Regions from separate parts of the Homo sapiens genome. Here region 2 is linked to region 1. The links come from fine-mapping of genetic effects on gene expression. Tissue or cell type: whole blood. Region 1 holds a variant in brackets; the other region holds the start of a gene. All regions are shown on one strand. Distances are from middle to middle. Region 1 overlaps DNER (delta/notch like EGF repeat containing). Region 2 holds the start of PID1 (phosphotyrosine interaction domain containing 1).

Region 1 (8,338 bases):
GAGTCGTCCTGAAAGAGTTCGCCTTCTCAAGGGAGAATGGAGACATGTGTTCCCCCATACCACATGCCTACCATGTGCCATCACTATGCTGGTCCTTAAGTATGTTACCTCACTTACACTACAGAATGTTGCTCTCAAGCAGAGGTCAGCCAACCTTGTCTGTAAAAGACCAGATATTAAACATTTTAGTCTTGTGCTGGCCAAGATATAAAACTGAGCATATGATATAGATACTTGTATAACATGAGAGGAGATAACATTCCACACATTTTTTATTAATGGAAGTCAAAATATAACAATAATTGAATACGATTTATTTTTGTAATACAAGTCTACTAAGGAGAAGAATAAAACTCTGTGGGGTAGAAAATATTTCACTTAATTGGGCTTCCAAGTGAGTGTGTATGGTATGGTTTGAATGTCTTTCTTTGTTGCTTCCAAAATTCAGGTTAAAATTTAACCCCCAATGCAACACTATTAAGAGGTGTGGCCTTTAGAACTGAGTCATGAGGGCTGTGCCCTCATGAATGGGATTAGGTGCCCACCTGAAAGGGCTTGAAGGAGGACTTTCACTCCTCACTTTTCACCCCCTGTCCCTTCCACCATGTGAGGACACAGTGTTTCTCCCCTCCAGAGGATGCGGCGACAATGCATCATCTTAGAAGTGGACACCAGGTCCTCACCAGACACCAAACCTGCTGGTATCTTGGTTTTGGACTTCTAGCCTCCGGCACTGTGAGAAATACATTTCTGTTCTTTATAAATTATCTGGCCTCAGGCATTTTGTTATAGCCACACAAATGGAGTAAGACAGTTGGCTATTGTCAAATCAATTTCAAATGCTCATTTGTTATAAACCACTCTCACTGCAATGAAAGGAACCAATCTCCCTGGAAAAAAATGGCTGATTCTAAGTCTGAAGCAGGAAACACACAAGATGAGCCTGGAGCATCCTGTATTGCCAGAAAGCAAGAAAGTGCTAAAATGCACGCACACACAGGCACAGGTACATACACACACACAGGCACATGTACACACACACAGAGATACACAATGATGAAGGTATGTCAAAGGTGCCGACTAGAAAAGCTCTCAATGGCCAAAGATGGAAAATTTTGAGCAAAAAAAAAAAAGTGTTAAATTATACTCCAAACAATAACAAAAATGTCCGTTAGTCCATACTAGTATAAATAAGTTATTGAATAAATAAACGTGGGAGAATAAACAAATTTCTCATGCAGAATCCCAAATAATTGAAGTAGATACTTTATCCTTAAGGAAGTGGAGAAGCATAACTCCCCGCTCCCTAAGTGTGGGCTACACATAGTGACTTCCTTCCAGAGAGTACAGTCTGGAGAGAAGAGGGAAAAGGTAATTTTACAGTGGAGAAGCCTGACCAATGCTTCAGCCAGGTGATTAAGGTCAGCATCCACAGTAATAAATCATGTTGTTAGTATGTAACCTTGATAAGACATGATGAACATGGCACTTTATCTCTGTGGTTGTCCTCCCCAAAACGTGTAACTACAGTCTGATCATGGGTCAAACGTCATAAAAATCTATATAGAGGAACATCTTAGAAAATACATAGTCCTCCTCAAGGTCATGAAAACAAGGAAAGTCTGAGAAATCATTGCAGCCAAGAGTGGCCTCGGAGACGTGATGATCAAATGTAATGTGGTGTCCTAGACAGGATCCTGGAACAACCAGAAAAAGACAGTAGGTAAAAAGTAAAGAAATCTGAATGAAGTATGGATTTTAGTCAATAGTAAGGCATCAATTCATTAATTGTGACAAATGTGCCCAACTAATGTAAAATGTTTATGAGGAAAACCAGACATGGAGTATATGGGAACTTTTAGTAATATCTTCACAACTTTCCTGTAAATCAAAATCTGTTCTAAAATAGAAAATGTGGCACATATACGCCATGGAATACTATGCAGCCATAAAAAACGATGAGTTCATGTCCTTTGTAGGGACATGGATGAAGCTGGAAACCATCATTCTCAGCAAACTATCGCAAGGACAAAAAACCAAACACCGCATGTTCTCACTCATAGGTGAGAACTGAACAATGAGAACACATGGACACAGGAAGGGGAACGTCACACACCGGGGCCTGTTGTGGGGTAGGGGGAGAGGGGAGGGATAGCATTAGGAGATATACCTAATGCTAAATGACGAGTTAATGGGTGCAGCACACCAACATGGCACACGTATACATATGTAACAAATCTGCACGTTGTGCACATGTACCCTAAAACTTAAAGCATAAAAAAAAATACAGAAAACACAAATAAAATAAAAACTTCTATATCCATCAAAAAAAAGTGTATGAAAAATTCACACACACATGCACAATCACTCTTAGTTTAAGCGCTGTGCAAAAACAAGCTTTGGGCTATATGTTGGCCTATGGGCCATAGTTTATCGATACCTGCTCAAATAGGCTACTTCCATTTCCATTTTGTAGCTGAAAAAACTGAGGTCAAGGACTAATTCTAATCACATCAGCGTTCATCAAACCCTTGTGATCAATTGTGTAATAATTGTGATAATTGTGATATAGTGTGAATAATATCAAAGTCTATGCTCTTTATTGTAGCATAGGAGAACTCTTCTTCCCCCTACCTGAAAGCATCTGATGATTCTTCATTGACTCCATCACTCTCTAATCAGGAAGAAATGTATTTTTAGGAGGTCCCGGGAGATTTTCTTGAAGGGCCCACTGAGCCACACTGACCCACAATCACCCCTAAAAGCAAGGGAAGCTGGAGAAGGTGACAGCTGACATTTTCAATTCTATGTTGCATCACAAGAAGGGCAGAGAAACGGCTGTGGTGGAGGCACCCAGTGGTATTTGCCAGGGTTGTTGTGAGTGGTTACTTATAATTTTAAGGTGATTTCATACATATGTTTCTTTTCTATGGTTAATGTTTTCCCTATAAGTAAACTACAAAACACTTTAACAGAAAGAACTATGACTTAAACTATCATATACCTGAAAAGTTAGTTTTGTTTGGTTTTGTTTACCTGGACTTACAACATTGTTTGAAGAAAAGATCAGTTCAGACTCCCAGACACTTCTCAGTTCTTGGAGAAAATCACAGCCAGACAAAATTGTTCAAAAAATTTATAGCCTCATGAAATGAAGAAACAGAAGCCAGTAGGGCAGAGTTACTAAGTGACAGGGTGGGAGGCCCAGGCCCCACTGTGCTAAGTGGAGACTTTGGTCAAAGAGGCCAACTCAACGGTTAAGACCACTTGGAAATAACTTATCTGCATGTGTCATTTTGTGGCAAGAGTAAAAAGCTTTGAAAAAAACTCCCGAATGAGCTGGAGACACTGCTGTACCATTTCTAGATGGCAGGGATCCCTGTCATTACATGTAGTTGCTTTGGCTTGTGAAGACTCACATATTAGAGAACTAATTATGGCTACACTGAGTTATAAGACCACCATCAGTTCAAGAATTCTGGAGTAGTAGTTAACTCTGGCTTATCAAGTACTATTTTCACAGCTAGTGCAAAGTAACAACTTGAGACGGTGGAGTTTTGACACCCTTAGAGAATGTGCTCCCTGCTCTAGAAGGACTATTCCTCACACATATCACAATGTACTAACTGCAGATCCCAATCATTAATCATAAAAGCGAGGGTACTATCCTACTTTGTGATCATGTCTGAATGTAAAACAAGAACAGCAGCAACAACAACAATAGCTAACGTGCTGAATCTTGGTGGGCGCTGGAGGGAGGCTAAGTGATACACACACAGTCTGGCATCCAATGCTCACAACGATTCTTCAAGGGAGGCCCTATCATGATCCCCATTTTTCAAATTTTGAAGCTTAGACCCAGAGAGCTACTTGTCCAAAGTCATTACCAAGTAAACAATTGAAGTAAGGTTTTAATCTACTCTGCTACAAATAAGCTGCCCTATAGTGGAGTTTACCTTTCCTTCATGGTGCTCTATGAAGTGTAATTCTATATTTATTTGTTTGTTAGATGAAGGTCTGGTTCAAAACAAGCTATAAGCTCGGGAGGCAGGATCCTCTGGTAGGGCTCTTGTCGGTCA[G/C]CATCTGCCTGACAAAGAATAAGTGCTCGATGAGATGAATTCTTATCATTGAATGTCCAAATGAATGAGCAAATGTCTTTAGATATATTTGGTGGCCACTCTCAGATGGTCAGAAGGCTCTGCCCAAGATCTGAATTTGCAAGCTCCATTAATTGGCTTTCAAGGGACAAACTGTGATTGATAAAAGACTTTAGTTTTTTAAACAAGTCCTTTAAGAGACATCGCATATAATGAATTTAAGACTTTGGGAGATTGAAAATGATTTCAGAGGGTGTGATTGAAGCAGCTTGCAAATGAAGACCAATAAGCAAAAAAGACACGGAGGCTCAGACAATGTCCAGGTGCTCGTGGGGGTCAAGAGGCAAATGGAGTACAACTCACACCTTTTCATGGCCCTCTCCTATCATCGATCAAGAAGTGTCTGAGCAACACACAACCAAAGGGTCTTTTATAGGAAGATGGGAGTAAGTATGTCTGCACAACACTCTGCTGCATGTTCCCATGACTGTTTAACCAACCAAGTTAATATTTTGTACTTACCTTACTTCCACTTAACTGAAAATATTAATGTATTGCACTGTATCATTTAATAATCAGAATGTGGGTGTACTGCTGTGTCATTTGTAGGATTAGGAACAGATGTTTTGAGGGTAGAGCGGGAAGGAAAAGAACCTTAAATAATTCTTTTTGCTTAAAACTCTCCCTCACACCTGGTTCCAGGACTCCTCTTGGCCTTACCTGACGTTCCTGTGTACAGTTAAAAATGCATTTTTAAAAATAACTCTGGGACTTCAGAGCAGCATTTGGATACAAAATGGAACTGAATATAGGGTGGCTCTAAACGGCCTTCAAGTTTCTAAGAACCATGGAGCTATTTGCTAAGGCAATTTCATTTAGCCTCCACAGGATAGCAGCGCCTCCACAGGATAGCAGCACGCAAGGTATTTCTTGAGGCCACAGGTGCCTGCCCTCAATGCCTGGAAGCATCTCCGGATTCCAGTGTGCCCACCGTTCACTTGTGCTGCATTTCACTGGCAAATTCGGATATAAAACTTCAGATAAGAATTCTTATTTTTTTTCCACACTTCACACTGACAAGCAGCTAGGGTGAGCTTACTGACAATTAGGAGGTCAGAAAGCCTTGCAGAGGCAAAGGAGGGGGCTCCGGCAGCCACAGAGGTGCACTCCTCAGGTTATTTAATATGGTATCAACCATGGGATTGTTTGGCAAACAATATCACATCCAAAACTTTTTATATATAGTTTTCAAAGAACAAAAGAGACAACTGCATCCTTGACTTGATCACATTTATTCAATATGGTTGGAAATTAGCAAGAATCAGAAGAAGCACATATCAATCAAATACAGCCACAAAAACATCCTGGAGATAAATAAAGCTGCACTATGAGAAATACTCACTACTGAAGGAACCAGTACTCTCTTACATTTACTACCTCTTAGCAACAAACAACTCAAATGTAAATTTAATTTACTCACAATATAGAACCCTTGACTTTTTAAAGAAAAATATAGATTCAAATCAATCAGAATTTGCCTCGCTAGGCCTTTTCGTTACGTATGTTTTTGAGGCCTAGTTCGACGACTGTTACGAAAATGACAAAAACAAACTCGAAAGAATGTTTCCACAAAGTTCAACAAAACAGTGCAGAAATAAGTTACTTACCCATGCACAGAATAAGGCAAAGGCTAATTTCATTCGGGTTAGGAATAGTAAATTTAACTAGTTTCTTTTCCACAAAACGAACATTTCAGACTTCTTTTTAAGTAACGGGTATACTCTATTATACATCATATGCTACGTTACGTGGTTTTCCTAACTCTACTCAGAAAGCCGGCACTCAAACGTCAAACAGAAACTTCTCCTTGATTAGACTTATTCTGTAACAACCACAGAAATTAATCTGGGTCTCGTGATAGTGTCTACAGTGAAAAGAGCACACACTAGTAGAAGCACACAGTTTAGAGAGCTGAAGGTACATTAAAACATCGTCTATAGGTTTCACAAATTTTGTTTTTAAAATATTTTTTCCAAACTAAAAGCTGCAGAAAATTAGTTCTTAAATATTCTACTGAAAACTCTTGAGCAGCTAGCATTTTAAATTTCTTAAGCTTTTTATTTTCTTAAAAATATTTAAATGAGTGTAGTATCTCATCTTTTTGAAAAATAATCCAAAAAAAGATTACAAATCTTTAGTTTTAATCAGTGTGACCAAGGGTTTGTCATCAGGACTGTAATCTTCATAGGCGATGGGGCTCACATCATACATTGCAGGCCGGGATTTCTTTCCAAACCTGAAATCAGAGAGAAAGGACTCTGGTTAGATAAATACTAGATCTCAAGTTTAATTAAAGCAAGTGATGAGAATAATTTATATGCATGAATTAAATGAAACTGTAAAAACATATTCTATAGCAAGCATAGAAACTTTAGACATCCTAATATTAACACTGAATGTGTATAAACATTAGTCTTTGGTGTTCGAGGCAAAAAAACATATTTCACAAAATGTAGAGCTCAAAGTTGGAGCTTGCAGGTTAAATCTTGGCAAAGCAGTCAAGCATGACAGCTCCACAATAGATTTTAAGAAAATGTGTATTGATTTGTCTTTTTCTTCTGAGGCCCATAAATATTTGGAGAGGTGAGTTTATTTTATATCTACTCCAGTGCCTGGAATATAGAACACCAGGGCAGTCTTCCCCGGGCCATGGACAGACAGCCTTTCCTGTGGGATTTTCAGGGGATAAGCTGTGAAGGTTTAAGGTCATCTGAGATCCCAACACAAAAGGGCAGAGGTGGGAAATGACTTCAGATACAGAGGTGTCTGTCCACAAACTATGCCAGAACTCACCATTGAATCCCACCCACCTATCACCTCCCAACCTTATGGACACAGAAGCCAATGTTTTCCTCAGAGCACAAAGCCATTGTCCCAACAGATTTGTATGTATCAAAATTGCCTCGACAGCAGGACTGCCTCTCAGAAGCCAAGGGAGTCAAAATCCAATTTCAGGACTTCCTGTCAAACCTGTCGTAAGGTGGCAATTATTAAAATAAAGCCAATTCAACTTCTGGGTGGTCTCTTCCCATTCAAGACCTCACCTTCCCTACAAGCCCTGGAGTGCAACAGGATTCAAACGATCTTCCACACTAACCCATCCTCCCTCCTCCTTTGTCTGGACAACATTTTTTAATTGTTTCAATTCCACCAGGGCTCTTTAAAAAGACATTTTAAAAGAACCTTAAATTTTACAAGGTTCCTAGGATGGGGTCCCTAGGAATTAAAGGGGCTTATTTGCCATGGCTCCTGTCCCAACTCTCCTCTTTTCCTATTTTTTCCTTTGATATGTTGAAAGTCTGTCTTCTCATGTATGGAGATGGGAAGTAGAATCAAGCGGGAAATGAGAAAACAGTGCGTTCTTCATGTGATCTTTCATTTTAAACAGTCATCAATCTTGTATTCCAATCCTCTCAAATTTTACTGGCCTTGAAGAGCACAAAGGCATATGCTATGCCAGACAGGCACCAGGCAAAACACGGGGTTAAAGAGTTAAAGCATTCTACCCTCAGAAAAACCCACAGCTATTACTGCAATATGACAAAAGACTTCAATAAATACTTTCTAAAATGTGAAGCCTCACTGAAGGTCCACCATTGTGCTCACATAGATGTGGGTCAGGCTCTAGCCTGCAGTTTGTTCACCTAAATTGAGTGAGGCCTGCATAATCTAAGGATAGGAAAAGTGTCAACAGAGTAAAAGTGTCAACAGGCCTGTTGGGTCTTACACTTTCTCCCAAGTCTGACAATTTCCTAGGCTGCTTTAAGATGCAAACATTTTGACAATTTATTTCTCATAAAATACCTAGATACACCACCACTAATAATAATTTAACCAAAAATATCCAGCAACCCAGTGAAGAGCTCTCCATATCTAACATAGTAGGATATAGAGAGCTTTGACTTGAGGGCCAACAAATTATATTAACTAACTAATTATTCGATTGGTTGGCTGAAAGGAAAAACCCAATTGTATATATCTTTAAAACATCCTTTTTTTTATTTTTTATTTTTGAGACAGAGTCTCGCACTGTTGCCCAGGCTGGAGTGCAGTGGCGTGGTCTCGGCTCACGCGGCAAGCTCCACCTCCTATGTTCGTGCCATTCTCCTGCCTCAGCTTCCCGAGTAGCTGGGACTACAGGCGCCCGCCACCACGCCCAGCTAATTTTTTGTATTTTTAGT
Region 2 (8,338 bases), 84 kb before region 1:
TTCACTGTAAAAAGTTGGGGTGGTAAATTAAATCTTCACATCCCTTTTGATCCTATTATATTTTTAATGGCAGAAGCTCCCAGCGAGGGCTCGAGTGGGATGCAATAGAAGTTTTAACATTCAAGGGAGCAGATGAACTTGCCTCGGTTTGTGTGACTGAATGAGAAATTACCCAGCGCAGCTCTGCTCAGGGCAATAGGTCCCTTTGCCTGTGCTGGATTTGGGTCAAACAGCTAAACCTCAAATCAGAAAATATCAGCATCATTTTGTGGGGACACAGAAGTGTGGGTAACAATAATGATAATCAAACCTGATCAAAGATGCCATTTCCTGAGCAACGGAGCCAGTTGCTACACTCAAAAGTCCATTATTTAGAGGGTGACTGTTCTACGCAAAGATCTATCACACTCCCCTGGGACACAGACTTCTCAAACCAGCTTCATCGAATATGAACTATATCATCAAGAAAGGGTCTGGTTATTTTCTTCCATCCCCTCTTTTGATTCTAGGTATTGATAAAATAAATTGACTCCTTAGTCCTATTAGGAAGTTCTGGGAATGTTTCCTTGACGAATTTTCTTCACTCTGGCTCATCTAAATTAGAATGTTTGTATTAAAGATAAATGAGAAAAAAATTAATGAGGTCGAATGAGAAGGTTTATAAAGATTTGTGAAAGGCACATGGAGCTCAGACATCATTAAAGAGCAGAACTCATTCTCAAGTTTCCTATCCAGCATGATATCCACTGCTATCTCTGTGGCCACAGAGCCTGGGAGTGGCAAAGTGGCTTCTCACTGAGGAATCGGACAGGCATGTTTCTATATCACGGTGAAAGGAAAAGAAAAGGAAAAAACCCCAGACAGCAAACAGAGATTGTGACAAAGATAACCACAAGGAATGTAAATAAAATATGATAAGCAGCTCACTCACCATCTCATCCTCAACAGCTCTCTCAGAGGCAAAAGTAAAAACATATAAATTATGTGTTTTCAAGGAGAGTCAAGCAATACTCTTTGGGAAGAAGCCACGGATATAAAAAAATTTTTCCGCATTTGTCTCACTTCTCTAATCTCAAGGCTTGAGATGTATGTACTTTCAAAAGAGACTCATCGAAATTTGGGCAGCATGAAGTTGAGCCCCCTGTTGGTAAGGACCTTCCAACAGTGACTCGGTCTTATTGGTGATAAGCCCTGTTTATATGAGCTTTCAAAAGCCTAAAAACAGGTTCTTTCAACATGACACCTTGAAATAAAATAAACGCATTGCAAACACCAACTGCAATAAACCAGGCTCACGCCAAAATGCACACGTGCACATTTCACAAAATAAGGGGGAGACATTTCTAGTGAGGAGCAATCTCTATGGGAAGGCAAGCGAGAGCGCCCACCTGCCAAGGGTCACATGCTCCAGAGCGCACAGGATTCCCTAAGTGAAACAGGCCGGTAGGAAGAACTTGAATAGTCAAAAATCTACAAACTCTTCAGAGGTACAGATCATCAGGCCATAAAAGCCACCTCAAGGAATTTTGGTCACATCTCTCTAAGGACTTCCAAAAGCTACCCTCTGCACTTGAACAGGAAACCTGCCAGCTCCCCTCAATCATTCTGCTCCTTTGGAATAGAAGTTACGCCTTTAACCGAAGGAGAACTTCAAATGCGCCACTGGTATCTGGTGCCACTGCCAAAATATATTTACATCACCTTCTATCAGTCATTCAGAGCCCAGTGCTGATATTCTCTTAGTAAGACAAGGAGGGGGTTAGGAGGTTGGTCATCCACCTCCTCATCTGCAAGGCTAAATGCAGGTTTTCTTGTTTATTCTACTTGAGACCCTGGGGAACTGGTCTGGTGTCTCAGGCTCTGATAAATTGAACACACTCCCCGCAAATCATGGCCCAGGGAGCTTTGGAAAGGAGCTGTGGGGCATCTGTTTCTGCTAAATGCAATGCCCTCTGCGGGTTGTTCCTCTGTATGAGGACTCCTAGACAAAGGTTAGCCTCTCCCTGCATCTGAGAAACTGTGCTTGGGGCTGTAAATGTTCATTGAGAAGCCTCCAACCTAGCCAGGGCCTGGCCTCATTGTCCTAAGTCTTCAGATGCACTCAGCCTCCAATGGTGCTGTATTTTACCAGTTAAACACGTCTTCAAAGTTTACTACGAAACAATGTGGCTCCTAGCTTGCCAAAAGTTTAACTGCAGGATTCAGTGGATTTTATCTGGCAGAGTAGCTGCCGTGACTCTTGACAATATTTGCCAGCAAAAGGCAGTCCTCAAACCTTGCAACCAGGGCAATCCCAAGGCCCAACGTGTCACTGAAGGAGTTCTTCTGGGAAAGGTCCCTCTTTCTCTTCAATCGCCTCCCGCAAATCCCCAGCTTCCAGAATCCAATTCAAGGCAGTCTGGCATTTCAGGAGACAGCAGTAAAAAACTTTTGATGGGATAACCCAGGACATAAATATTCCTGGCTGAACCTACTTTTGATTCTTAAATATCTGAAGGAGCTTGGGTTTAAGGAAGATAAAGGGAGAGAACCAATGAATAGGGAAAAATAAAATAAGTAGCATACCATGACCAAGCCAAACCAAGCTTGATATTTCCACATTATATTGGCAAATGGATGCTTTCACATATCACTTGTTCTGTCTTTCCTGGTGACCACAAAAAAAAAAAAAAAAAAAAAAAAATCTGGCTTCAAAAATCCTAACCCCAGACCACTGCATTGTGTCAGTGGAATGCAATCTAAATTGCCAGTCAGAAAGTCCAACCTTATATGTACCAACCAACACGCACACAAGCACCTCCAAGCCAAAAGTTGTAACGCCTGAACCCGTGCGTTTATCAATTTCATCATCCCCATACCCCTGCCGGGTTCCTGGCGCTGGGTAAACCGACAGCATCATGTTGCCATCGATGCGTCTTACAAGATGGTTTTGGGCAAATCCCCTAAAGTAGGCAGAAGCAAAAACTAGGTTCCTCTGCCCGGGCACCTCCTCCTCCAGGCTGGCCCCCGGCTCCCGGGTGCCCCTTACCTGCAGGCGCTCCGTGGCCGGCTGCCACATCTTCCAGCCCTGGGTTTTGGCAGAGGAGACGCTGGCGAGACTGTCGATCGCGCCGGGGGGCGAGGGGCTGGGGTCCCGCTTTACATCTGGGGTCGGTGTCCGCGGGATGTGCGTCCTGGCGCTGGCCACCGCCGCCGGGTGGGCGTAGGGGGCTGCGAGCAGGAGGAGGCGCGGCGCTCAGCTGCCGGCAACTTGTGGGCACGGCCGCGCGCCGGCTGTCCTGGCGCAGCTGCGAGAGGACTGCGCAGCTCCGCCCGGGCCCGGCGAGCGCGCGGCGGCGGCGGGGGCGGCCGCTCCCTCCTCCCCCGCCGCCGCCGCCCGGACCTGCGCGCTCTGAGCATGCCCGGGGCGGGCGCCCAGGGGCCGCGCGGGGCGGGAGTGCAGCGCGGCCGACTCTAAATCCTAGTGAGGGGTGAATGGGGAGGCTAGAACAGCCGGCCCTTCCCTGCAGGAAGCCCCCATTGGGTTGGGGTCTGGGAAAAGGGACAGACTGGCTGAGGGGGGAAGGGCCTGGAGCCGGGGGTGGTGGGGGCAGCGGGGATGTCGGGGGTGGCGGGGGTGGGGGAAATTCCTAAAATAAGGAAACCGTAGCCCCGGGGGTCCCGGGTTTCCATATAACAGGCATCTCTGAAGTGCCTGTGCTGTGCCTGGCGCTGTGCTAGGGAGACACTTCCATTCATTCTTCCCACTCCAGTTAACTGAGCATCTATTAGGCTCCAGCCCCTATGCTGGGTTCTGAGGATGCAGCGACGCAGAATAGAAGACAAGAGAATGTTCCTTCTCTCTGGAGCTTACCTTCTGCTTTGGAGAGAGAGTCGTGACTGAGCAAACACATCAACAAGCCGGTGCTATATCGGGTGGTGATAAAACAGGGCAGATGTGGGAAGAAGGGGAGAGGAGAGCTTCTTAGACAAGGGCCCTGGGGAATGCCTGGAGTAAGACCTGAGAGATGAGAGGGATTGGCCACGAAGAGGCCATGCTTCATGATGGGGAGAGGACTCGACTCCTAACCTATACAGGGGTGAGGAGGGCCATGCAGACTCCCGAATCACTAACTCATCCTGAGATCTGCCAGGTGCAGCAGGAGGCTCTCAGAACCCAAGGGAAAGCCGCTCTGGGCTCGCAGGCCTGGAGGCTCCCCGGCTAGTGCCGGCCACCATGAGATGACTTCCTGTCCTAAACAGGCCAGCCCTTCCCATTCTCTTGACAACTCGGCAAAATAACTATTAATATTTTCACCATGTGGATCAAACAAATGAGGCTTATAAGGTTTAGGTCACTTGTCCAGGTCACACAGCCAGTGAGTGGCTTAGAGAGTGCACAGTCAGATGACTTCAGGGCAGGAGATGTGGCCCTGCGCCTCTAACTGACCATGGAAACCCAGTGGAAAGAGCATCCGTCTAGGGCTGGGGGTTAAAGGCACTTGGCAAGTCAGGGATACTAAGCTGATTCTCGAGCTGATGAAGAGTGGGAGAGGAGAACATGGTGGGAAGAACTCAGGACATAGAATGACCAAAGAGAGGAGCAGAGAGAACACAATGTTTGTGGGGAGCCCTAGGCTCCTACAAGGCAGGGTCCTGAGAGCAGAGGGGTGTGAAAGAGAGGCATTTCATACTGAGACAGCTGCACAGCTTGGGCCGTGAGCTACTCATGCAATGTCAAAATCCACACTCCATGTCTGGAAGGAGGATCTGTCCATTTTCCTTGTTCTGCATGACTACAATGATTTCCAGATATGGAACCACTCCAGAATCTAACCCTCAGCTCATCGGACCCTCGCAGCAACTCTCCGTGGGACAGAAGCCCCTATCTCCCAAGGCTTGGGGAGCACAGGGTTCACAGAGTCACACTGTGGGGAGTTACAATGGCGATTCAGATCCAGGATTCCAGGCAGATCCTTCTGGACCCTGCGGTTGCTATGTTGGTGCCACCAGCCTTGGCAAGCCCAGGACCCTCAGTGCCTCTAGGAGCCTCTGGCAAAGCCACAGAGCTGCCTCTGAAGAGCTTGTCTCTGTCTCCCTGGATATCCACAGGACCCTCCCACTCCTGCCTGATAACCACCTGAACCTTCTCAGCTCCTTCTCCAGTTCCTGCTACTTGTTCTGAACTTATTAATAAATCTCTTTTCATGAGGTGTTTGCCTGTCAGCCCGCACAGACATGTGCCTCACATGCTTGGTGATATGGTCTCTGTTTGCTTTTCCGGTAACTCCTCCTGCACACCTCCACACCTACAAAATTCCTTATGACCTTCCCAGCCCCCAGTTCTCTTTTATCAAATCCCAAAGTAGAAAGAAATGCAATTCATTACAAAAATCTAGAAAATCCAGACATGCATATAAACCCCACCCCCCAACCCCCCCAGGAAGCTAAAACAGGAATATTCAGTTGCCAGGGATGTCTTCAGACTTAAGCTCTGAAACCATCCTTGCTTGCAGATGCTTCCGTGGAAAAGTGATTTTGTTTTAAATAGCAGTGGAATGAGTTAACGGCCTAAATTCAAATCGCATTAGAGCGTTAAATCCTGTCTTCTCACCTCCAAACGTAATTAATTGTTATGACTCAGTAATACAGCTTTTAGTACGGAGTATGGTGCTATTTAAAGAGAAAAAGCTTTGGCTCTGTAAAGATTGCTTTCAGTTACCGTTCCCACTTTGCAAACAGATTTGGTAAAGTAAAGAATGTATTTAAACTCAAATGGCACTCCTGTTTCAATTACCTTTATGCCACGAATCAGGAAGCTAGGGGAGGGGGTGGAGGAGGGGCAATTGCAGGCTTGTGGGAGGTGACAAAAGGATGGGACAACCTCCCACTCATAGATTTTGCTCCCAAGTCTTCCCATTCAGGAGGAGCCTGCAATGAAGGGTGAATGAAATAGAGACATCTGCTGGCTAGAGATGAGACCTGCATGCCAATGTCTCCCAGCTCTGTTCTGTGACATTGGAACCTCATCCTTCCTGGTGAATCTGAAAATGCTGCCTTACGATGTAAACAGGTTTGTTCTGAGCAAGAAACCACCCTTAAAATGAGCAGAAGGTGTTTTGGTGCAATGAGTAGAAATATTAGGCATGTAAATGTGTGCCTAATTTCATGTACTTAGTCTCCTGCAATTACCGAAACAGGTCTAATCTTGTCAATAAATACCATTTGAAGGCAAATGACAGAAATCAAAAAAGCTTGACAAGGCACAGATGCGTTATTCACACATTTGGTTCAGAAAAATAATTACAGCATCCCTAGAAATTGTGTTAAGCCAGATTTGATCTAGTTCATGGTTCTGAGCCCTAGCATAAGCAACCTCAATGTCCAAGTCAGAGTAATGGTGAATGAAAGTATGGTCCAGCATATCAAAGAAATATTAAAATATTATGCAGCATTTAAAAGGATAATTATAAAGTTGTGTTGCAGCTGAAAATGATACAATTATGGTTTTTAAAGTAGGATAAAATGTATATAATTTGAATATATGTATAAAATATTTATCAATCTCAGTAAATGTTGGAAAGGAGCTAGGACAAGCAGAAGACTCAGGTTGAATCCCAGCCTTCGAACTGTCTACCTAGGTATCAGCTTTTCACAAGTCATTTGCCTTGCTGAACCTCAGATTTCTCTTCTATAAAATGGGTGATAATATTACTTAATACTTAGGATTTTGGGGAGGAGTGAATGAATTAATATGTGCAGCATGCCTGACACATGGTAGGTGTGTGGGAAACATTCGTTTTCATCCCCATTATGTTTCTTTCTCTTTTTATTATTGGAATGATCCAATTCTCACAAAGCGGCCCATGCTTCTTGTGGTTACACTATTTCCATTTGGAATATTTGTGGGTTTCAATTATTTGCTTTAGATTCTCAAATAAAAATGACAAAGGATATTCAAGCTCACTTACGATTCTTTTTTCTTTTTTGAGATGGGATCTCACGCTATCGCCCAGGCTGGAGTGCAGTGGCGCGATCTCGGCTCACTGCAACCTCAACCTCCCAGACTCAAAGCAATCCTTCCACCTCAGCCTCCTGAATAGCTGGGACTACAGGTTTGTGCCACCACACCCAGCTAATTAAAAAAAAAATTTATGGAGATAGAGTATTGCTGTGTTTCCCAGGCTCCCTGGGCTAAAGTAATTCACTTGCCTTGGCCTCCCAGAACGCTAGGATTACAGGCATGAGCCACCATACCTGGCCCACTTACAATTCTAACTTAAGCAGATGACAGCAAAATTTATTATGGTTGTGTATTTAGCAGAATTATCATTAAAAAGCCCTTGTTATGGTATCACTAACCTTATTTCAAAATCACCAAAACAGCTGTATATAAATGAGCAATATAAAAAAGTCTGAAAATTCATTCGACCATTTAAACCTCCCAGTAGTGACAGAACCACTGGCTTTCGTCCCTACAGAGTGATAGGAATGTATTGGGATGTTAAGATGACGCTTAACAGGGTAGGACTGGCTCATTCGTGTGTTGTGACTCTCCTACTCTTGACTCCTCATATCCTCACAAACCTTAGACACCTGATAGATTATTTTCAGAAATGCCCACAAAAATCTCCCCTCCCCAAGGAAGTCATGCCCATTTGCACTGTAACTTGCCTGCTTCTCTCATCATGAGATGCAATCTGTCCACATTCCTTGAATCTGTGCTGGACTTGTGGCATACTTGACCAATAAAATGCAGCAGATGTGACACTGTGGAACTTCTGAGCTTGGGCCACAAAACACTTTGCAGCTTCTGCTCTCACCCTTTTGGAACATAAGTCATCCTATGAAGGAGCCTGGACTAGACTCCTCAAGATGAGAACAACACAGAGGGAGGTCAGACCATGAGTTAGCACCCACAGCCAGATATGTGAGTAAGGTCATCTCATAACACCCAGCTCAAGCCACTACACGACAGCAGCCACATGGGTGATCCCATGTGGGTCCCACCAGTGGAAGAACCACCCAGCTGAGACCTGCCAACTGCTGACCCACAGAATCATGAGTACATAACAAGGTTGGGTTTTATCCCTTAAGTTTTGGGTGGTTTGTTAGGTAATAATAGAAAACTGATAGAGAAAACATCACTAATAAGTGTCTGTCTTTCCCGCTAAACACACCCTTCTCAACATTTCCTAACAACCAATTGATCAGGGTTAGCAGTAAAATGAAGCCTAATAGTCTAACATAAAAACTTATTTCCTCTTTTGGTTTTATTTCTGCTCTCACAATTCCCTCATACACACCTCCATCCTAGTCTCAGATTGTGTGGGCCCTGTATCCAAGTCCCATCTGTTAA

What was found. PIP is the estimated chance that this variant, and not a neighbour inherited with it, causes the effect.
Region 2: PID1 starts here. The variant in region 1 is fine-mapped to the expression of PID1 in whole blood (INTERVAL, PIP above 0.99).

What each region holds. Positions count from the first base shown.
Region 1 is chr2:229,352,259-229,360,596 of GRCh38, forward strand. DNER (delta/notch like EGF repeat containing) reads right to left here. Exons shown (of 13, transcript NM_139072.4): 13 at 5,371-6,393. The coding sequence ends at 6,282. Among named protein-coding and RNA genes, the nearest start is that of PID1, 85 kb to the left of the region's middle. The variant G/C (reference allele first, on the strand shown) is at 4,080.
Region 2 is chr2:229,267,986-229,276,323 of GRCh38, forward strand. PID1 (phosphotyrosine interaction domain containing 1) reads right to left here and starts at 3,302. Exons shown (of 3, transcript NM_001100818.2): 1 at 3,029-3,302. The coding sequence starts at 3,058.